2 separate regions of the Homo sapiens genome follow, and region 1 is linked to region 2. Evidence: fine-mapped expression QTL. A gene starts in region 2. The other region holds a variant in brackets. All regions are shown on one strand. Distances are between the middles of the regions.

Region 1 (11,838 bases), 580 kb before region 2:
TATAACAATAAGAAAAGAATTTTTTTTGCATTGCTTATAGTTACTTTACTTTTTGTTGTGTTTTTTCTTTTTTAGGCCAAGCAATGCTTATGGAGCTCATAGCTACTTTATTAGATGTTTTTCTTTTTCAGTAGAAGCCATTGTAATACTTTCTATGTGAACACTGATCTTAAGTATATTTTCATTGATAAATACACTAGGCAAATGAATGTGCAATGACATTAGTACATAATTCCTGAAGCCTATTCCACTGGACATTTGATCTGCATATAACAGAAGTTAATGAAGGTTCTATGGTCAAATAAATTTGTATACTTTTGGGTTAAATAAACTTAAATAGGTTTTTATTTGTTTTGTTTTTGTTTTTTAATAACCAGACTACTCAGACTTTAATATGCTAATATACATTGTAAATCTCATTGAATAGACTAATTTTCTTAAAAATCTTTTCTAATTAGAATTATTATTCCATAAGACTATACTTTTCAGTGTTATCAAAATTTATTTCATTGCCAAACACTTTGAGAAATTCTGTATATTTTCAAATACAAAAAAATTAATGGATGCCCCCTAAGTGCTAGGCTACATATTATATCCTGCAGATTCTTTTGAGTAAAATAGGCATGGTGTTTGCCCTCATGGAACAAACACATATTTTAAAATAGATTTTTTTTCAAGAAAGCTAAATAATAATTACGCAAAAGATTTCTAGATTCATTGCCATAGAAGTGAATACAAAACATTTAAGTATATGTATAAAATGAAATATGATAAAACTTAATCGAAGAACAGCTTGCATAAAATATAAGTATGAAAAGCTTAACATAATACATAAAGAATTAATTTGAATTCACAAGACAAACATCAAGTCCCAGTAGTAAATGAGCAAAGGGTATAAACAAAAAAACCCACATAAGTAAAAATTTAAATAGCAAAAGAAGTTATTAAAAAAAATCTATTGTTCCTAGTAATCAAAGCAACATTTTAGTAGCATCTATTTAACCTCTATAAATTTGCTTATACTATAAAACATTCAAACAAAACAAGTAAGTACAAAATTGACACAGTTGTGATCAAACAAGCTTTTTGGAAAGCATTCAAAGCAATACCTATGAACAGCCAAACTAAATGCATCTGCTCACTGAGTAATATTACTACTAGGAATTTTTGTAAAAAAAAAATTCAACAGAACAATAAAACTATGTTTATGGACAAATACATGTTCACTGTAATTTTATCTATAGTATTAAAAATTGGAAACAATGTCAATTATAATAGGCAATGGCAAATTAAATATTGTTATGCTAATTTCATTGATTATTATTTTTATTGTGCATCTAACCTAGACAGCTTAGATTTTCTGAAAAAATAAAAAAATTAGCTTAATTAGGTGCACTGCAGTGGGTTTACAAAAATCCTATACTTATTAAGAGTAATACTTTATGTTTATGTGTAAAAGATTGTTAATTAGATGATTAATTTGAGTGAGCTACGGCAGGCCTTGGAGGTTGATAGCCAGATGAACTAGCTGTCTTCAAACCGTGACCTATATATAGGTGTGATAAATGAACATGAAAACAATGTTTTCCTGTGCTGGTGGAAAAGAATTTATAAACATTTTGCATATATTTGCATAATCTACATGTAATCAATTACATTGCTAATATACAGTTGTTCCCTCTTATCCATGGGGGATATACTCCAAGACTCCCAGTGGGCCCCTGAAACTGAGGATAGTACTAAACTGTATATATAGTGTGTTTTTTCTTATATATACATGCCTATAATGAAGTTTAGTTTATAAATTAGGCACAGTAAGAGATTAACAATAACTAATAATAAAATAGAACTATTATAAGAATATACTGTAAAAAAAGTTCTGCAAATGTGGTCTTATTTTTTTCTTTCTCTCTCAAAATATCTTATTATATGTAATATTTTCAGACGGTGGTTGACCAAAGGAACTGTGGAAAGTGAAACTATGAATAAGGAGGAGACTATTGTAAGGATTAGCAAGTAGTGGTCAAGAAGATAGATAATGAATAAAATATAAAAATGTTCTATCACCATGAAACGGGTACATAATTCAATTAACTGTAATTGAAGGTAATTAGCTGGATTCCATGTGGTGGGTGCAGAATTCCATGTATCTAAATCAGACAATAAAAAGTTGAAAATAAAATTTGCATAAAGGTGAAATTTACCCAAGGAAATTTACCGAAGGAATATATTTTAAGGACTGTAAAGCTGCATGGCAGCTAAAAGCATGCCTTTGAGTTTCCCTGTTGATATGGTAAGTGTTACCGGCTTGGAAAAGGATCACAGTTCTGATCCCACATTCCAGTTCCCCAAATCAGACAGTTTACCTAGATCTGTAGCAGGGTATTCATTTTGAATCTTTATCTGGAGAAACCGGCACTGCTGGAAATAGTAATATTCACTCTTTAGTCAGATGAATAAGGGAGGAGACCACCCCTCATACTGTCTTATGCCCAATTTCTGCCACCAAAGAAAGAAGTAAAAACTAAAACGCAGAAATGAAATCCATAGGCAGACAGCCCGGTGCCACGCCCTGGGCCTGGTAGTTAAAGATCGACCCCTGACCTAACTGGTTATGTTATCTGTAGATTCCAGACATTGTGTGGAAAAGCATTGTAAAAATCCCTGTCCTGTTCTATTTCGTTCTGATTACTGGTGCATGCAGCCACCAGTCACATACCCACTGCTTGCTCAATTGATCACAACCCTCTCACACGGACCCCCTTAGCGTTGTGAGCCCTTAAAAGGGACAGGAATTGCTCACTTGGAGAGCTTGGCTCTTGAGACAGGAGTCTTGCCAATGCTCCTGGCTGAATAAACCCCTTCCTTCTTTAACTTGGTGTCTGAGGAGTTTTGTCTGAGGCTTGTCCTACTACAAAATGACTTTGCAAACCCATTAAGTTGTAGAAGTTATATAGAGATAGTAACATAATATATAGAAAGTATTAATACTGTGATAGTTTATGTGAAATATATTTTAAGTCATAATGATAATTTATGTTTCTTATATGTAGCATACGAAATGTTCAAGAGATGACATGTTAGAGAATCTCTGACATGTTAGGGAATTTAATTGTATTGTATTTTTAATTAGAAATGCCTGATTATACTTGTGATTTAAATTTGACATGCATTAGGGAATGTAATCAATTAAGTTTACAAACAGTGCTTGAATGCTTACTAAAGTTGTACATTCAGTTTGTTTTATTTTAAAAAGCTGCTTAAGAATTTATAAAGACTGTTTTAGTCTGTAAGTTGGCCTTATCAGAAATGAGGTGTTTGAAAAAATAAAAAATATTAAAGTTATATATGTAGGTTAAAAATCTAATACATTAAACTTACTAAACTATTAGTTAAAAAATAAAGAGTAATTAAAAGCGATTTGCTTATTCTTAATAAAAATTATTTAATTTCTAAATCTGCTAGTAAGAGTTATATGTTGAATTTAGGGGTTTAAGAAAAATTTAGTCCTTTAATTAACCACAATAACAAATTTCACATTTAGACAGCTCTAAGTGGTTCATTTTGCATTTAAAAGCCCTCCCTTGGACATTAAAAATTCACCGACATGTTAAGCCCAATGTTAATTATCAATTGAACATGACAACATGACAAATTCATGTCACTCTGAAAATCCATTTCATTATTCCATTTGCATTTGACTACTTAGTGACATTCCTTGCATTTTAAATAAATATTTAATAAAAGTATCATATTTAATATAGAAAATTTGTAAGTAAAAAATGTGTAAGAAAGAAACATTGCCAGTAATCCGCCAAAAGATGGCCACTACTAATATTTTAGTATATTAGTTTTTTATATATACGTTAAGCACAAATTAAATTAGTAACCTACTGTATATTCTTTATACATGGTTTTTTATATGTTGGCTTTTACATTTTAACTTTTTTACCATGGCAATGTGTACAGATTTTACATTGCAAGGAGAGAGAACCGGGGGGCTTGAGTGACTTTTGCCACAGTGTAATGAAGGAAGTGTTGGATTTGGTATTAGACAGAAAAGAGGTTAAATTTGGTTTCAATGTTTACTAGCAGGGAGGACCTCGGACAAGCTTCTTAACATACTCTAGCCTCAATTTCCATACCTGTGAAGTGATAATGATAATTACTACTTAATTTGTTTGTTGGGGGAAATGAGGTATCTCTATCTAAAGCAGATAGGGCAGTATCTGATATTAATAGTTACTTTTATGCTAAGAATTGTAGAGGTTGGTTTCAGTAGAAACTTTCGGTTCAGTCTGTGATCTGAAGTGCTTTTGAGGTGAAGGAATCTCAGACCCATGGAAGGATTCTTTGTTCTCTGAATTCCACACATGACTAGTTAGAGCTGTTCAATGTGATTGGCAAGCAGAGTTAAGAGTTTGCTGTAATAGCTGCACTGGAAGTGTGCAGACAAATCATGGTAAGAAATTCAAAATCGAGAAACCAGCCAAAGAAAAAAATGCTCAGCACATACATTTAAATAAAAGTATTTGTTCTAATTGCTTTTATGTATAGTCAGAGACAAATCATTTAAAATGACAAAAATGTTTTTTTTGGAAAGCTCAGCAGGCATTCAGGGCCC[C/T]GGAGAGTCATCGTTATGAAGGGAAAATACTAACAGGGTGGACTTCAATTTTCAATAAGAAAATTGGAGGCTTTATTTGTGTGAGTCCAATTAGTGCAGCTAGTTAAATTTTTCAAATTGCAGAATTATAAGACAGTTTTAGAAAAGAAATGTTTTATGTAATTCTAACAACTATGCATATCCCCTTGTGGTTGGAAATAATCCTTTTTGTGAATGATTCTTCTCAGAAGAGAGGCATTCACTTTATGTACACGACATCTTGTCTTTGGTCTTTTTTTTTTTTTTAATGAGCCTCACAAAAAGACCCCCTAGAAATGATCAGGAGATGCCAACTTATTCTCCACATAAACATTCTGATTTCTAAGAGTTAACAGCCACCGCCTTTGTGTTTACCTGAGGCTATACTCATTGCCAAACTTCCCTGACAAGCTTTTTGCCCTTACTTATTGTTGTGCTGATATCCGGTGTCAGAGCGTTGTAGATTGTGCTGGAAACACTATGTAATTACATGGGCTTTCTGATCTCAAAGTTACCTCACCTATTTCATCACTATACTTTTCTAACAAGGGAACGGAAACCCAAGATATAAGACATCAGTGGGAAATTGGCACCATGGATATTGGAGAGCCAGTGGCACTATATTAAACTTCAAAATGAAAGAAGGAGCCTGATGGCAAATTCACTTGCTTCCACTTTTGAAGGTCAACGAGTCACATCCCGAAAACTAGAGTGATTCTTCAAGTGATCTGTAAATACTTCACGTGTTTAGAAATGAGTGTTGTAACCTAATCATTTTGGTGATTATAAATTCTCAGACACCTGCTGTCTGTCTTCCCCCTCACACCTGAGGACCTGCACAATGTAGAGAGACTACAATAGATATATGGCTAAAGTAGACAACGTGCTACTTCTGCATTTTCGTATTAGTAAACATTTTAACACATTTTTTCATATATGCAAATTAAAATTATTTAAATAAAATGCGGTTTCAAATACAAATCTATCTTTTTATTTGAAAACAATATTTGCCCTTACAAAGTCCAATAAGTTGTTTTCAACCAATTCGTGTTTTATTGATAGAAGAGTCAAGTGTTAAAAGAAAAAAAGTGAGAATGGCATTAAAAATTTAAAACAATCTATTTTTGTTATATCAAATAAAATTGTTGAGGCTCTTTGATGTCTGCATTTTTGAAATTTCTAAAATCAATGTCTTTTGCACTTTGCCATGCAAAGACTCATTAGAAAAATTAGAGAAAAAATAAAAACACGAAGAATTATTGAAGTGTGCAAGTCATATGATTTTAGTCTTTTAAGCAGGTATTGAAGGTGCTTTAAAAATGTTGGATGATTAGTAAATAATACTAATAATAGATTTTTTTTTCCCTTTAGGTAAAAATCCTTTTGGAAGCCCAGGCGTGGTGACTCACGCCTGTAATCCTAGCACTTTGTGAGGCCGAGGCGGGTGGATCACCTGAGGTTAGGAGTTCGAGATGGTGAAACCTCATCTCTATTAAAAATATAAAAATTAGCCGGGCATGGTGGCGGGTGTTTGTAATCCCAGTTACTCGGGAGGCTAAGGCAGGAGAATTGCTTGAATCCAGAAGGCAGAGGTTGCAGTGAGCTGAGATTGCGCTGTTGCACTCCAGCCTGTGTGACAAGAGCAAAACTCCATCTCAAAAAAAAAAAAAAAATCCTTTAGAAATTAATAGCTTTGTTAGAGCTTTGTTTTCTCAGATTAATAAAAATAATTTTCATTTCATTAAAGATACAGAATTTATTACCACTGTGGTTTCAGCTCCATCAAAGGTAGCTTACGTTGGCCAACTCTTTGGTCATCAATTTTGGTGCACTAGATTCAAGTTAATAGTAAAGAAGGAATTCTATTTTTTTTTTAATTTAAAAGACAGGGTTTCACTCTCACCCAGGCAACACAGTGGTGCAATAATAGCTCACTGTAACCTTTAACTCATAAGGTTGAGCTTAAAGGAACCTCTGGCCTCAGCCTCGCAAGTAGCTAGGACTATAGGCATGCACCACTGCAGCCAGCTAATTTTTTTTTTCTTTTTTTTTTTTTTGAGACAAGGTCTGGCTCTGTCACCCAGGCTGGAGTGCAGTGGTACAATCCTGGCTCACTGCAGCCTCGACCTCCTGGGCTCAAGCCTCCCACCTTAGCCCCCCGAGGAGCTGGGACTAAAAGTGTGTGCCACCACACCTGGCTAATATTTTTTTTGGTAGAGATGAGGTTTCGCCATGTTGCCTAGTCTGGTTTTGTACTCCTGGGCTCCAGTGATCCTCCCACCTTGGCCTCCCAAACTGTTGGGATTACAGGAACAAGCCACTGCACCTGGTCAAAAATTTTTGATGTTTTGTAGAGATGAGGTCTTGCTATGTTGCCCAGGCTGCTCTCAAACTCCGAGCTTCAAGTGATGCTCCTGCCCAAAGTGCTGAGGTTACAGGAGTAAGCCACCACGCCCAGTCTGATTCTAATTGTTAAGAGGTTTTAATAGACTGATTTGACCCCCTTAAAGTTATCTTCCAATAATAATGTTAATAATTTGTATTTTCAAAATATTCATTTTAAAATAGGTTTCCTTTTAAAATGTGAACATTTCTGTTTGCCTGAGTTTCTATTTTGAGGAATCAGGTTTGACCTGAAAGCTTGAGCACTGGCCAGTCTTTGGAAGATGATTTATGATCAATTGACCTAATCAGTCAAAGCAGAGAGATGAGTCAAGGCTGAGGGTTCAACTTGTACAAGAGCCAAAACCTTCACATAGAGAAAAGCTCTTGACATCCATGGTTGACAGGTGCACTCTTAACACCAGCACTCTAATCTGTGCTACTGGCCATTGACAAACAAAAGTGAAGCCTTTTTAGACCCCCACCAGAAAACGTGGAAACCAGCCCATCTGTCCTGAAATGTTTTTGTATCACTATGGCCATTTTGAAAGCACAGAACGGCATACTCTTATATTTATAATTCTAGATCTGCATCTGCTGAAGCTATGAGCTCCAGAATGAACAACCTTTAGACAGAACTGTAACCCTCAATGAGTGCAGATGGTTTTCTTTTCCGCTGCACACAAAACAACATTTTGGCTGCACAGGTTAATCAAGAAATGAAATGAGGAGCAGCAATAGCAACAACAACAGCAACTACAAAGATGTATGAGGCAAAGGAAGAAGTATAGTGAGAAGGACAAGAAAGTTTACATCAGGGGTCTGCAAGCTATTGCACTTAGGCCGACTGCCTGTTTTTATAAATACGTTTTCTTTAAAAACTGTAGTTAAATATACATAACTTAAAATTTATCATTTTAACCATTTTTAAGTGTGTAGTTCAGTGGCATTAAGTACATTCATAGGGGTATGCAACCATTACCACTACTCACCTCCAGAACTTTTTGTTGTTGTTGAGATGGTGTCTCACTCTGTCGCCCAGGCTGCAGTGCAGTGGTGCAATCTCGGCTCGCCGCAACCTCTGCCTCCTGGGTTCAAACGATTCTCCAGCTTCAACTTCCTGAGCAGCTGGGATTATGGGCGTCTGCCACCATGCCTGAATAATTTTTGTATTTTTAGTAGAGACGAGGTTTCACCATGTTGGCCAGGCTGGTCTCGTAACTCCTTACCTCAGGTGATCCACCCGCCTTGGTATCCCAAAGTATTGAGATTACAGGCGTGAGCCTCCATGCCTGGCCTCAGAACTTTTTCATTATCCCAGTCAGAAACTCTGGGCCCATTAAACACTCACTCCCCATTTCCCTCTCTTTCCAGCCTCTGGCAACCACCATTCTACTTTCCATCTCTGTGAATTTGCCAAATCTAGATACCTCATATAAATGGAATGATACGATATTTGTCCTTTTGTGTCTAGCTTATTCCACTTAGCATAATGTTTTAAGATTCATCCATGTTGTAGCCTGTGTAAATAAAGTTTTATTGGAACACAGCCAGGCCCATTTGTTTACATAATGTCCATGGCGACTTTCACATTACGGTGGCAGGGTTGAGTAGTTATGATAGAGTTGTGATGACTGACAAGACCAGAGATATTTACTCACTGACCCTTTACAGAAAAAAAACTAAGTCCTTGGTTTAGATTAAAGAACCATAAAGTACCTCCTTGTTTTTTAAAAACTCCTTTATAGTGTTACTTGCCTATGGCAATTTTGGCTTATTTCTCAGCCTGATAAATAGGATTAATGAACTGTTTATCACACTGTTGTCATTAGTAAAGAGCCTCAAATGTCAAGATTTAAAATTCTTTCCGCAGGTCTGGTTACAGTGAAAGAGGGCTCATTTTCACATTTCACTGATACACATTTTACATAATGAGGACTGATCAGTGAGAGCTGATTAGTGAATCTTGGTGCAGAAAGTTCTAAAGCATGATGGACAGTTGCAGAATCTAAAAATGTCTCTTTTTCTTTGCCTTTGTCCTCTGTAATTGTGAATTTGTATGAAACAGCATAATGTGTATGCAATATTTGTAATGATAAAAAGTGTGCATTTTTGCTTGAAAGTCTAAAATATCATCTTCTACCTGAACTATTAGGTATAGTTTCTTATTTTATTGCATTGTATTAAAATTTTTTTAGGACTCTCCTAATTAGCACTACTAAATTATTTGTGGACAAGTACAAAGAAGTCTGAGAAGAACATTTTTTTTCTCTGTATTCAAAGCAACTGGGAAGGAAATGTATGTTGTAGTTGCAAAATACAGATGAAATGGCAGATAATGCTATTTCCCATGAGGTCAGGTTTCAATGATTCATCCTCTGTTAACAAAACGTAATGTGCTTGGGCAAACATTCCAGATAAGACAGCACCTGGTTTTATCATACATGATAAAAATGAAAAGGTCTGAGGGACACTTTATGGAAACCATCGAGGTAATAATAACAAAACTGTAATAGCAAACATTTCTGTGGTGTTGACTTTGTGCCAGGCACTGTTCCAAGAATTTTGCGTATATTAACTCATTTGATCCTTATGGCAAGTTTATGAAATAGGAACTTTTATTATCTCTCTTTACAAAAGAGGTATTTGAGGTATAGAAATGAATAGCTCTATTTTCACTGTTAGGTTGGGAGTGGGGGATGGATGTTGACCAACTGCGGCAATTATTGTGTTTCAGTGGTCACTTTCTCTATTCAGACACCCAGAAGACACAGTTCATCTAGCGAGGAGCACTCTGACTTCAGTGAGGGGTTGGTGCCCTTCTCTCATCCTCAGGCTCCCTATTCCTGTGTCAGTGCCTCAACGGTTGTCTCCATTCACTTTAAAATGTGTCTTCATGACAAAGACTCTGATTCCTACCTTTGCCTCAACTTTTGCCATTTTTTCTTCTCTTCCACCCACTTGCATGTACTTCAATGTAGTCCTATCAAACAACTTGGAATTCTTGAAATGTCTTTCCTGCATGAGTTCAAATCCACCTTTTCCTAGTTATGCTGTGCAACCTTGAACAAATTACTCAACTTTTTTTTTACTTTTAAAAACTGTGATAAAATACACATAACAAAAAACAAGATTGTACATCCATCACCACTATCTAGTTCCAGAATATTTTCACCACTGCAAAAGGAAACCCTGTACCTATTAAGCAACCACTTTCTATTCCTTGTCCCTCCAGTTCCTGGCAACCAATAATCTGGATTTTTGTTGTTGTTGTTGTTGTTTTTCTGGATACAGGGTCTTGCTCTGTTGCCCAGGCTGGAGTGCAGTGGTGCAATCACGGCTGACTGCAGACTTGAACTCCTAGACCCAAGGAATCCTCCTACCTCAGCTGGGATTACAGGTGCATGTCACCACACCTGGCTAATTTTCTTTAAAAAATTTCATTTGTGGGGATGGGGTCTTGCTATGTTGACCAGGCTGGTTTTGAACTCCTGGCCTTAAGCCTCCCAAAGTGCTGGAATTATAAGCATAAGCCATTGTGTCTGGCCCAGTATGTTTTCTGTCTTTATAGATTTCACAGCTTTGAATATTTCATATATATGGCATCATACCATATGTGGTCTTTTGTGTCTGGTTTCTTTCACTTAGTATAATTTCTTTTTCACTACAAAACGGCAACCACAGAGCATAATGTTTTTAAGATTCATCCATGTCATAGCATGTATCAGTACTTAGTTCTTTTTCACAACTGAATAAAATTCCACTGTATGGACATACCACATTTTGATCATCCATTCATCAGCTGATAGGCATTTGAGTTGTTTCCAGCTTTTGGCTGTTATGGATAGTGTTGCTATTAATATTCCATGCAAGTTTTTGTTTGAACACTTGTTTTCAGTTCTTTTGGGTATATACTCAAGATGAGAATTACTGAGTCATATGGTAATTCTATGTTTAACTTATTGAGTAACCGCCAAACTATTTCTCACAGTGGCTGCAGCATTTAACACTCCCAGCAAAAATGTACAAGTGTTCCAATTTCTCCACATCTTTGCCAACACTTGCTATATTCTATTTTTTAAAATTATAACCATCTGAGTGGATGTAAAGTGGTAGCTCATTATGGTTCCTCAATATTTTTAAGCCTTTGAATCTACATTTGCAATGATGATGCAAATAGCACTTAATTCATACAATTGTATGAGGAATAAATGCAATCATATATGTTGGGGGCTTGGGCTAGTGCTCTGTAAATGTAAGGTCTCTTATTATTCTTTTTTACCATTGCTGCTGGGCCTATGTTATCTCTCCTGGAAAAGACAGTACTCTGGGGTCAGATGTTTGGGCTCGAAATCTGATTCTACATTTGCCAGCTGCATGGCCTCAAGCAAGTTATTTAATTTCTGTGTGCGGCAGTATCCTTGTCTATAATGTGTTCTAGCAGTACCTATATTGCCTGGTTGTTTTGAAGACTATGAGTTACTGTATGTAAAGAACAGTACCTGGCTCATAGGAGACACTTTAAGTGTTAACTATTATTACTTCCTCCTTCTATTTCCCAGGATAATTCCTGCTCAATCTCCAGATTGCAGCTTTGATCTCTTTCCTGAGGAAGCTTCCTTTGTCAAACCCCCTAACCTCTATACCCAGCCCCCTGCAAGGTTAAGTTGGCTGTCCCTCCTATTTACTTACTGAGTCACTTAGATTGCTGTCTGTCTCTTGTCTTTTTGCACCTTTGTTTGCTCACTATCTAGCAAACTACCTGGCCTATAGTACTCTCAATTATTATTAGTTAAATAAATAAATGGGGCCAG
Region 2 (11,838 bases):
TGGCCATTATGGCCTGAAATGGGCCAGGTTTGAAGCGAGCTTCCTGCGCGCCTGCAATATCCAGCAGGCATGTGGGAAAAGAACGGCTTAAATGGGGACATCTGTTCAGTGCTGCTCATCTTACTCTTAGAGCCAGGTCAGGTTAAGAGAATAACCTGTTCGCCACCTTTTTTCTTGTTAATAAGACTATTAGAAAAAACCGAGCACACACACACAAACAACACTAATTGAGCTGCCATATAAGCAAAGAATCACACACACACAAAGGTAGCAGCTGAGTTACAAGAGGAACAGTAAAAATTAACCATTGAGCTATTTCAGGGGACATCCACAAAACTTCTGTCAAAATAAAATAAAATTAAAAAAAACTTATGTAGACTCAAAAATATTCTCTACACAAATGGACTTGTGCAAGAGACTTTGAGAACTCAAGAAAGCATGGCTAATTTTCAGATTTTCATTTTAATAAAACTGACCTGAAAGTAAACTCCAATGAACAATTTTTTAGGCTTTCAAGTGCTCGAAGACGCCACACTTTCTGGTCATTGGTGTTATTTTGGGTAGTGTTATCTCTAAGAATCTGTTGACAAACCCAAAGTGGGAGCATGCTAGTTTGTCCCCTGGTTTTAGAAAGTGAATTGTATCCCCTTTCACAAATATCACACATTTGTAAACCTTATACAGTGATTTGAACACATGTGTGGTTAAACCCAGAGACCTGGAGCAGCTCCTAGATTATTTGTAATTAAACACAATTCCCAGAGTAACATTTATCTTCCCAAAACTGCGATTGCAATTGTCAACCGTCTGGAGGAGACCCCGGGGTAATCTGGGAGCATTACCTCCTCTACTAACAGAACAGAATGAAAAGAAATCAATAGTGTTGAGGATAAGCATTTAGTAGTTTTTAACTCTGCATGTTAGCTGTAAGAAAGTGATATATAATACCAAAAGAGAAAATAACAGAAACAAATCCATTCTAGGAAAAAAATCAGAGACACACTCATCTGAATGTCTAAGCTTCTCTTTTGCTCTCTTGCCTTGAACGACAGTCACACACAAACACACACCATTCACACTAAATGAGCAAACTCTTTTCCCTACATGTGTTTCCTTCATTTATATGATGAAGGAGAAATACAAAGTGCTGTAGAATTAATTATCAATTTTATCCATGGGCTGGCAGAGATGAATATAAAAAGTACTGTAGAGTGCAAGCCTGAATGTAGAAGTAGCACGAGGCCACATTAACATAGCATGAAGATATGAACATTATGTGTGTTGACAATAAATAGGGAAAGGTGTTTTGTTTTCTTCCTTTAATACAGGCTGTACACAGAGATGGAGATTTTGAACATCAATTTTGGTAAATATCTTTATACTTTTCCTATCTATGAACTTACCTACTACTAAGATGATTGTTTGATACATGGGGAAAGTCCCGCTTGTCTTCTAACTATGCAATTTGAATATCCCAGCTAAAATAAATCAAAGCTGGTAATATGCTAAGTCAGATAAGTAAATCTCTTTTAATTAAAGTGTCCCTAACTTTTGAACATTTTGAAGTGGCAGAGAAGAAAAAGTAAATATTAAGGAGAATGGAAGAAAAATATCAAGTCAAGAAAAAAATAGGAAATGCTCTCTCAAGTGGTCTCATTTATTTACAGTCATCAAGGCAACGCTTTTCATCACCAAGAAGCTCCTGTGCCAGTAGATCAAGAGTCACTATTGCTTCGTTGTGGTCAACAAATGCATCCAATTAAGCACTACCAGAAAAGTAAGGACTCGGCTATAAATGTGGCCGGACAGTTTGGAACCAAATAACCTCACTAATAGAGGCTATTGTTCAGCGTGGAAGTTCCCATTTTCCAATCAGGAAAATACAGCCCTCTCTGGGCTCTGGCCGACTGATCTCTTCCCACCTACGGCTCAACAATCTGCCACCAGCGAGGGGCTTGTATTACCTCTCTTCCCAGGAAATGTTAGGTAACTTCTTAGTAAAACCACACGAAAGAGAAATGGACTGCTAAGGGGCACCCCTCAGGAATTCACAGGTCCACGCCTAGCCAGGTTTTTTTTTTTTGTTTGTTTTGGTTTTGGTTTGTTTTTTGTTTTTGTTTTTGTTTTCCAGCGGGAAGGAAACTTTGACCAGAGAGCTCTCGACGAGGAAACACCCCCACCCAACCTGGCTCAGCTCGCTGCTCCCGGCGGCCGCCGGCGGCGCTCAGCTACCCAGCGATCCCTCTTCACGCTTTATTTAGTAGCCAACACGTCCGCGTGCGAGGACCCCGCACACTAGTCAAGGGGTTGGGGGTCGTCTTCCCATTCTGGGAGAGGCGCAGGCCAGGGACGCAGTGCCAGCACTGCGTTCGCTCTGTCTCCCGCGGGCACCCGCCGGTCAGCTTCCAGAGCTGCATGTCCCTGCCAACGCTCTAGAAACCGAGATGCTAAGAGCCGGGTTTAAACGTACCCTGCAGAGGTACGCGCTACAGTTTGTGTGCATTTTTTACCATTAGGCTTTTTTCCTTTCCTTTTATTTTCTCTCTCTCTCTCTTTTTTTTTTTTTTTTTTTTTTTTTTTTTTTTTTTTTTTTGACGCTCTGTTTATAGTGGTCCACACTTAACAAGTTCAAAAACCGTATTTGGTGTAGATGAGCTGCCGGACACTTGAAAGCCTAGATAACTTTGATGTTTTCCACTATAAATCCCTAATTGTACTTAATGGTTACAAATGACTTTATTTACTTGTCGCTGTAGCTACACATTTTAATCTATTAATCAAACAGCAGAGGCATCTTTCACTTCCTACTCCCGCAAAAGGAAAAGCAGGAATTGAGGCCTCTAATTTGCTTTTAGGACCTTCTGTTTCTTTGGTTGTGAAAGCTAAGACCTCCAGATCCGAGCATTGATTAGTCTTCAAACCTGCCTGCAAAAAACCTTCCTTTCTCCGTTCCATCTAAGGAGATGTTGATGTATATTGTAGCTGCAAGGTGTTAGATATACTTGAGCAAGTTGTTCCCAGGATGTAAATTAGGTCCCAAAAGCTGTTGTCCAAATCGAAGAAACAGAGAAATTAATCTGGGAGACTATCCATCATCACCGGTAATAAAGAGAGCGACATGGATGAGACAGATGATATGATTAAGGGGCTGTGGTCGTTTTAATTAACTTTTTGCTGTCCTGTAATGATCAAACTGGTCACCAGACCCGGTCAATAAGCATGTTAATATCAAACAAATAAAACCAGGGATGATTAAAAACCTCCTAGTTTATTAAATTTGAAATTCAAATGAAATTTATGCTGCAGATGCATACAGAATGCTAATAGATTTTAGCTTTATTGATAGTGGATCCCACAGGTTTGCAAGAAACAGCAGAATATCCATCTACCCCTCTTCCTGCCAGCACATTAAACTTCATATGGGGTGGAGAAACTTTTAATTAATGTTAGAAAGCCTGTACTTCCTATTTTTCTTCCCCCTCTTTTTCAAACATCTATATTATCACAATATAATACTCAAGAGTAATAATCAATATCGTAAAAGTTAAACCGAAGTGTATGCACCCTGAAATGCTTTGCCAGGCAGGCTATATCAACAATGGATTACAGATGTTCTCTCCTATGGGACAGGATTTAAGAATGATTGGGTCACTTCTCCAAAGTGGAGAAAGAGCTGTCATTAAGTCTAGTTTCAAGCATATTTAGATGCAAAATTATGACTGCTAAAATTTTTGGTCAATTATATAATTCTCTTTGTCTTTTCTTTTTAACACAGCTGCCTTATGCCTCATGTCACAAACACTAGCCATTTCTTTTGGGGAGGGAGTGAAAGAAGGGTGGTACAAGAAAAAAATGCCCTTTGACCAATGCTACTATGAAAGAAATAGCTCACTTTTTATATGAAAGTAAGTGGAATATACATATATTTCTAATAAAAAATATATATACATATATATAATGAAGAAAGTTGCACATACACACCTTTGTGGAAATCCCCAAATGCTGCAAGCCAATCTTACACAAACTGAAGAATCCAGTATTTTCATTAAATCCACACCAACGTTGTGACTTATAGGAAGAATGACATATGATTCTAAAGTTAATTTATACACTTGAAAAATCTTAGAATTAGGTAGCTCAAAACTGCAGTCACATGACGCTGGGTTTTTCTAATTCCTGGCATTTTTGAGGAAACAGTGTTAACGCCTCTGTTTACTCTCAGTATCAGCATTTAACTTTTTAATAGTCCTGCCTCACTTCCTTCCAGAAGATAGGAGGATAAAAAGATAAAATAAATAACTATTCATAGATGGGAGCCTCCCCTCAAAGCTGTTTTTCTCCACCTTTGAGGATGATGGTATTGATTAGAATTAAACCCCAAATCTGAACAACTGTATATTAGGCCCTTAAAATGAATATCATTAAAGAAGGAGACCAAAGCAATGAAGTTAATTCTCTTTTATTTGTTAAACGGAGTACCCTCCTTCCCCCACCCCTTCCTCCTTCTGGGCTGGCCTGTCACGCCTTCTCAACACGCTAAAATCATTCAGAGCGGCTTGCAGGGAGAAACACGACATTTATGGTAAGCGTCAGCCCTCAGAGAAAGAAAGCAGTTCATTAATTTACTTCACACTTACTTCAAAGTATGAGAGTATACCTTACCCCCTTAATCAATAGATATGATGTACAGTCAATATCCCCACAGCGTTTAAAAAAGGGTCAGAAATGTACACTCTCACACCACAAACATCAGTTTCAACTCTGCTCAATGAAATTTACACGATACAACTTGACTTCGAAATTTTGTAAACCCTAGGAAGATTTTTTGACATCCCTAGAAGCTGTGAAATCCTTGAGGGGGGTTCAAACACAACAGTAAAATAAAAATGTTTTCCCAGTCAAAACAAAACAGTTCGCCCAGCTAGTCACATTTTAGTTAATTCCATTTTAAAATTAGACTTCTGAGAGCACTTGTAACTGGTTAAAAATATGAACTGTTTTTATAACTTATGAATATTCAATAGGGCTACAAAGACTGGACTTTTTGCTACACTGGTGTTGTGCTTTCTGCGGTTTAAGTTCCCTTGTGGTGGCAGTGAAATTGTAATGGCATTTCTGAAGGCAACTAATAACACAAATGGCAAGCAAATGACTAAACCCCACCGAATTTGAACTAAGTGTATCTATTAACATGCACACACACTCATAGACAGATCTCTGGCCCAATCGCCATTAGACACTGACGCCTGGATAAATGTCCAAGATTTGTCAAAAGCTCCTCTCTATTCTTAGATAAATAGAACCCATATATTTCGATCAAAGTCCTGATTCTTTTCTCAGAAAGAGGCAGTGAGGTTTTCTGTGAAAATTTCTAAATTCCGTAAAACGCTCTTCAATTTCTTACCCAAAGAAAAAACGACCCTCGCTTACTCTCTTCTCTATCTAATCCTTTTGTATTGAAATTTACTCAACACCACGGGACACACACACCTCCTCCCCTAGAGTGAGACGTGCACTTCTAAAGCAGAATTCCACCTCAGGGAAAAAAAAAAAAAAAAAAAAAAAAAAAGCCACGGCATCAAAGAAACAACTCATGGGCGCGCAGGCGCGCATCCACGTCCCAACGCATCCCTAAAAATAACCCTTAGCCTCTCAACCTTTCTACTATTTCGTTGGAGAGCCGGGAAAGAAAAGGTGGGTTTAAAGATCTTCTTCAAAAATGTAGTGACGCTGTTTACCAAGTTAAGAAAAAAAAATCACTCAAGATTTTAGGTACAAGGAGCCAAAGGAAGTTGGCGACAGGGGCAGCGTTTGTGAATATTTATTCACTCAGCCTCCATCAACTTAGTCGGTTTCTCTCTTCAGCTCGACAGTCTCTCTCTTACAAACACACACTTTATTGCATTGTTCCCATTCCCCACTACCAGCTTTGGTGCGCGCACACAACACAAGCGCCCACACACACCCTTCCCTCTTCTCTGTCGCACAAATACACATGTTCACAGCCCTCCTTCTCCCCCAACACCAAACACACTCACCCCCCACCCAGTTGAGTCCCTCTTCCCTCCCTAGGTTTGTCAGTTACACTACCGTACACTCACACCCTTCCCAACACTTAACTGCTCTGTCCCTCTACCCCGCTTTGTCGCACACGCAGTTATCTTATCACACAACCCTCCCTTTTCTGCACTCTCTCCACTCCCCGCCTTTACCACACTGTCACTGTTACGGTGTCACACCCCCATCCCCCCTCCCTCCAGTCTCCGCACTGTCCTCTCCTACGCCTGGTCACACTCGCACACAGTTACATTGTTACACACACACTCATACACGCGAGCGCGCGCTTTGCGCTTTGTAACACACGCAGCCGCCCCCGCCCCCTCCGCTCCCACTCCCCCTTCCACCACGGCGGCAGGCGGCGGCGCCGATGACCTCACGGCGCGCGCGCCGCGCGGCCCGGCGAGGCCGCAGATTGGCTGGCCGCGCCTCCGCGGCACTTCAAAGCCGGAGAGGGAGCTACAATTGTGGTGGAATGGGCGGAACTGATCATTGTATTGCACACCTCTAAAAAAAACACTGCCTCTGATTTATCAATATAAAAAAGATCCTCTGAGAGGAGGAGGGCACTTTTGTGTGATGGCAACTTCACTTCTAGGGGTGAGTCTCAGGATTTTCTCTTGCTGGTTTAATTAGTTTCCTTTTATTGCCGATTGGAGGGGGTTAAAGTCGCCCCGGCCAGGCCACGGGCTATCAGTCTCTCTATTGAGAGCTTTTTTTTTTTTTCTTTAAATACAAGTGAGTTTGGAGAAAAGAAAAAGGGGGAGAAGGGGGCAGAGTCACTTTTTTTCAGCGCAGGAAAAGGTTCGAAGGGCATTTAGACAAGCCACCGCGCAGCGCCTCGCTGCTCCCTGCCCGGGAGACCTGCGTCCAGCCCATTTTACAGGCACCGATTTCGGGGGTAAAGAGAGCAAGTTTTTCCTTCTGGGCAAAGTGCAGATTCTTCCCCTAACCCTTAAAAAAAAATTCTGCAGCCCGCCTTGTCTCGCAGGTACGTTGAACTCGTCTCGTTTTTACTACTGTAGATATGCTTTTAAAAAAAGAAAGAAAGAAAAGCAGGAAGAAAGAGTGAGCCCTACAGTTTGATTTCTTTTGGCCTGGGAGAAACAACCCAGGATGGGTTTCTGGGGACCCGAACAGGTTTTTCAAAGCTCTCCGGATTACAGGGAAGCGCTCTTAAAAGCAATCCAATGGTTTTCCCCCAGGCTTCTCGGCAAAGAAAACTTCCTTCCTCTCCAATCTGGACTTTTTGCTTGTTTGTTACGAAGTGTCTGGGGCTTTGTGTGCAAGAGAGTGTTGTTTTAGGTGAGAATACTTGTCAAACTCTTCTTTAGCGTGGTGCTTGCTCCCGAATCAGACGCCGGCAGCCAAACTTGTCCCCTCCTGTAGAGTAGGAAGCGGCCGGGCGCCGGGGCTGTTGGGGGTGCCAGGTGAGTTGGTGGCGGCGCGCCGCAGCGAGAGATGGGGTGCAGTGGGGCGCTTTGGAGGCTACCGAAGGACTGATGCACATTTCTTCCTTTCCTCCCCCACCGGCCCTTTGCCCACCTCCCCTCCCCCACTCCTTCTCCTCTCCTCCTCGCAGGAAGAACCGAGGTTGGGATCGACTCCTCTGGCCATGCTTGCCGCTACCTGTAATAAGATAGGCAGCCCCAGCCCGTCTCCCTCCTCCCTCTCGGACAGCTCTTCTTCCTTCGGCAAAGGCTTCCACCCCTGGAAACGCTCCTCGTCCTCTTCTTCCGCCAGCTGCAACGTAGTGGGTTCCAGTCTCTCAAGCTTCGGCGTGTCCGGGGCCTCCAGGAACGGCGGCTCGTCCTCGGCGGCTGCGGCGGCCGCGGCAGCAGCCGCGGCTGCCGCGGCCCTGGTGTCCGACTCGTTCAGCTGCGGCGGCTCGCCTGGCTCCAGCGCCTTCTCCCTCACCTCCAGCAGCGCCGCAGCCGCCGCCGCCGCCGCCGCAGCCGCCGCCTCCAGCTCGCCCTTCGCCAACGACTACTCTGTTTTCCAGGCCCCCGGAGTTTCCGGGGGCAGCGGCGGCGGCGGCGGGGGCGGCGGCGGCGGCTCCTCCGCGCACTCGCAGGACGGCTCCCACCAGCCGGTGTTCATCTCCAAGGTGCACACCTCTGTGGACGGGCTGCAGGGCATCTACCCGCGGGTGGGCATGGCGCACCCGTACGAGTCGTGGTTTAAGCCCTCGCACCCGGGCCTGGGTGCTGCGGGCGAGGTGGGCTCGGCCGGCGCCTCCAGCTGGTGGGACGTGGGGGCCGGCTGGATCGACGTGCAGAACCCGAACAGCGCGGCTGCGCTGCCCGGCTCGCTGCACCCTGCCGCCGGGGGGCTCCAAACCTCGCTGCACTCGCCGCTCGGAGGCTACAACTCGGATTACTCGGGCCTGAGTCACTCGGCCTTCAGCAGCGGCGCCTCCTCGCACCTGCTCAGCCCCGCCGGGCAGCACCTCATGGACGGCTTCAAGCCAGTGCTACCCGGCTCCTACCCGGACTCGGCCCCGTCGCCGCTGGCCGGCGCGGGGGGCTCCATGTTGAGCGCTGGGCCTTCGGCGCCGCTGGGGGGCTCCCCGCGCTCCTCAGCTCGCCGCTACTCCGGCCGCGCCACCTGCGACTGCCCCAACTGCCAGGAGGCAGAGCGGCTGGGCCCTGCCGGGGCGAGCTTGCGGCGCAAGGGCCTGCACAGCTGCCACATCCCGGGCTGCGGCAAGGTGTACGGCAAGACTTCGCACCTCAAGGCGCACCTGCGCTGGCACACGGGCGAGCGGCCCTTCGTGTGCAACTGGCTTTTCTGCGGCAAGCGCTTCACGCGCTCCGACGAGCTGCAGCGGCACCTGCGGACCCACACCGGCGAGAAGCGCTTCGCCTGTCCAGTTTGCAACAAGCGCTTCATGCGCAGCGACCACCTCAGCAAGCACGTGAAGACGCACAGTGGCGGCGGCGGCGGCGGCGGCTCGGCGGGCTCGGGCAGCGGCGGCAAGAAGGGCAGCGACACCGACAGCGAGCACAGCGCCGCGGGCAGCCCGCCCTGCCACTCCCCAGAGCTGCTGCAGCCCCCCGAGCCCGGGCACCGCAACGGCCTAGAGTGACGCCCACCCTGCGCCCGCCCCTCTCCCCGACCTCCTCCCACCAAGTCCTCTTGGGCCCTGTCTGTCCGGACTTCAACTCCAGCCTTTCCCTATTGCATCCGACTCGCTCTCTGTCTCTTTCTGTTTCTGCCCCTCTTCCTTCTTCCTTCTGTGACTTAACTTTGTAAAGGGGATATGGACAAGTAAGTAACACGCATCGCTGTCCCGGGCCCTGGCTTTCCCTTTCCACGGGTAACGCTGCCTGAACCCGTTGCAGCCGGAACCCGCGCCTCGTCGGGCCTTTATTTCTCGTTCTCTCTTCCTTGTCCTCCCCTCCTCCACCCCCCAGGTTGTGAAGGGCGTAACTTTTAGAGGGAACGGCCACTGGAGGTAGAGCTGGACTAATCCAGTGCCTGGTAGACAGCGGGCCTCGCGCGGGCAGGAGCGGCTCGGCTGACAAGCCTGAGCGGAGCGGTGGAGAGGGAGAGGCTGGAGGCCTGGGCAGAACAGCGCCGCCCGGGCAGACGGCTGCTTGGTTCCAGAGCCGCTGTACTGAGCACCTCGGCTTCGGAGCACCCTGCCAGGCCCCTGGGCATCGCCGGACGTCCTACTCAGGCTGTCGGGGCTTGGTGGGGGTGACTTTTGGCAGCCCGAGACCCAGAGTTTGTAGAGTTTAGATCTCCCAATGTCAGTCTGCCTCTTTTTCTTTGTTCCCTGAGGTGGAACCGATGCAAGTTTCAGCAAAGGGCAGTCTTGTCGAATCGCTGCAGCAGCTTTCTTTCATCTTTATAGCATATATTTTATTTTTAAAAAAACTAGGGGGAAAATAGCAACCTTCCATTTGGTTTCCCTTCTATAATAGTTTTTTCCTCTAACGGGGAGCAATCTTTCTCTCGAAACTGCTAATATTGATCCCAAAGTTACTTTGACTGCATTAACTTAACTTACGGGGTGGGGGCGGGGGTGAGGGTAGGTGCTTTTTTCTTATGCAAAAATACTCCTTTCCGGTGAGACCAGATTAACTATCTCCATGTTTGTCCTTTTCTACCTCGTTTTTTCACCACTCCCAAACATAACCTCCCAATCTTTTTTGTTAGTCCGGCCGTCAATTGTATAGTACCAATTTCGTAAATTCTCTCAATTCATGAAGATCGTAGGGTTAAACTTTTTTGTGTGTGATTTAAACTTACAAACAAGTGAAGAAGCTATCGTTTATTTCAGACGAGGCTGTAGTTTAAATACCAAAAGAGGGAAAATAAAAAAGAACCTTTGTAAAATATATCTGAACCTAATGGTTTGTACAACTGGAGAATCGTTCTAGATTAGTTACCAATTAAATATAACTCCGCCAGTGTAAGGGTGTGAGGTGCAGTTGTCCAGGAGACGATTTTGTATAGTATTTTTCTTGTACATTACTTCCAGTAAATATTTGAAAATATATTGAAGTAAACTTGATTTTTTTTTTTTGTCACAAGAAAATATTAAGAGTTATTGTTGCAGTTCTGATGAGCTGCAGGTTTTTTGAACTCACTTCTGGAGGTGCAGAGCCACAAACGCACTTTCGGGGCCTAGTTTTGCTCGAATATGAATTTAGATAGGTATCAAGCTGTAACTAAGACAATATTTGATAAATGTTGGATGACATTTAATTTAATGGAGCATGTACTTATTTGCATTTGCTGGCAGTTCAGGCATAGTTAAAGTGAGAGTTCTCCTATATTTCATAATAAGTGGTCTGCCAAAACCCATGTATTAAATAAATTGTCCAAGTGAAACTCGACTAACTTTGGCCTTTGTGTATTTCCTGAAGGTAATATTGTTAACTGTTAATAAATACTTCTGACACTACATTTAAATGTTTGCAGATTCTGCAAACTAATTGCTCATTGTAATGTTGAAATAATTTGGATATTTCACATTGAAATGAAAAGCCTTTCTCTGGAGCATTTTAGATTTGCATTTTAAATGCATGAAATGTAATTGATTTATTTGTAATATTTTAAATGGTATAATAAACTCAGATAAAAGACTAGGCCAGTTAATTTGTATTTTTTCCCCTTTTTAAACTATGGACGTGCATTTTATCTTCAGTTAATTGTCTAATTTAAACAAAATATATCCTTGTTTGTGGTAATATTTAAATAATTACCTTTAAGATGTTAGATGGAAAGATCTATTTGGCAAAGCTGTGTTTTCTCTGTTTACCAAGATAAAGATTATAGTGTCTAAGGAATGTAATTGATTATTTACCAGTAGATTTAGCTCATAGCATCAGGATTTACTGACCTCTTAAAATTTGTACTAAGTCACAATTCAAAGAAATTTCACCATTCTCTTTCCTTCTCAGTCTCCAGAAGGAGTCAGGTTGTTGGCCATTGATTGCATTAGTATTTAAAAGGCCAAGCCTTACATTGGAAGATCAATACATCTAAAATAAAAACATGGGTTTGGGGATAACTTTTGTTGTTAGGAGGTGGAGGAGGTCAAGCTAACAAAAGCTTGTTTTTGGCATTCCAAGTCTTAGCTAAAGATTATGTAGAGGTAAATATCAGTAGTAGATTCCTGTTGAAATGAGTTATCTGTTCTTTTAAAGTCTCTAAACAGCCACCAAAGAAAAGGAAGGTTAAACCTTAATCTATTTACTAGGCTATTGTTCATAGGTGTCAATGATGCCAATAAAAAATACTGTCTTGTTATGTCTAAGTGCATTTAGC

Direction of the effects. Positions count from the first base shown, and alleles are read on the strand shown. Sizes are in standard deviations (SD) of each study's normalised expression.
For the expression in unexposed skin of the gene that starts at base 6,549 in region 2, T is the high allele of the variant in region 1 and C is the other (moderate effect, 0.45 SD a copy in GTEx).

The links. PIP is the estimated chance that this variant, and not a neighbour inherited with it, causes the effect.
Region 1: its variant is the best candidate, but not a certain one, in a credible set for the expression of SP8 in unexposed skin (GTEx, PIP 0.89).

Annotation. Positions count from the first base shown.
Region 1 is chr7:21,364,028-21,375,865 of GRCh38, reverse strand. No RefSeq gene overlaps it. Among named protein-coding and RNA genes, the nearest start is that of SP4, 58 kb to the left of the region's middle. RefSeq lists a silencer at 7,268-7,468 and an enhancer at 10,527-10,616. The variant C/T (reference allele first, on the strand shown) is at 4,625.
Region 2 is chr7:20,781,597-20,793,434 of GRCh38, reverse strand. It overlaps SP8 (Sp8 transcription factor), which reads left to right and starts at 6,549. Exons shown (of 2, transcript NM_182700.6): 1 at 6,549-6,657; 2 at 7,640-11,156. The coding sequence starts at 6,637. The coding sequence ends at 9,145. RefSeq lists enhancers at 1-426, 9,511-10,171.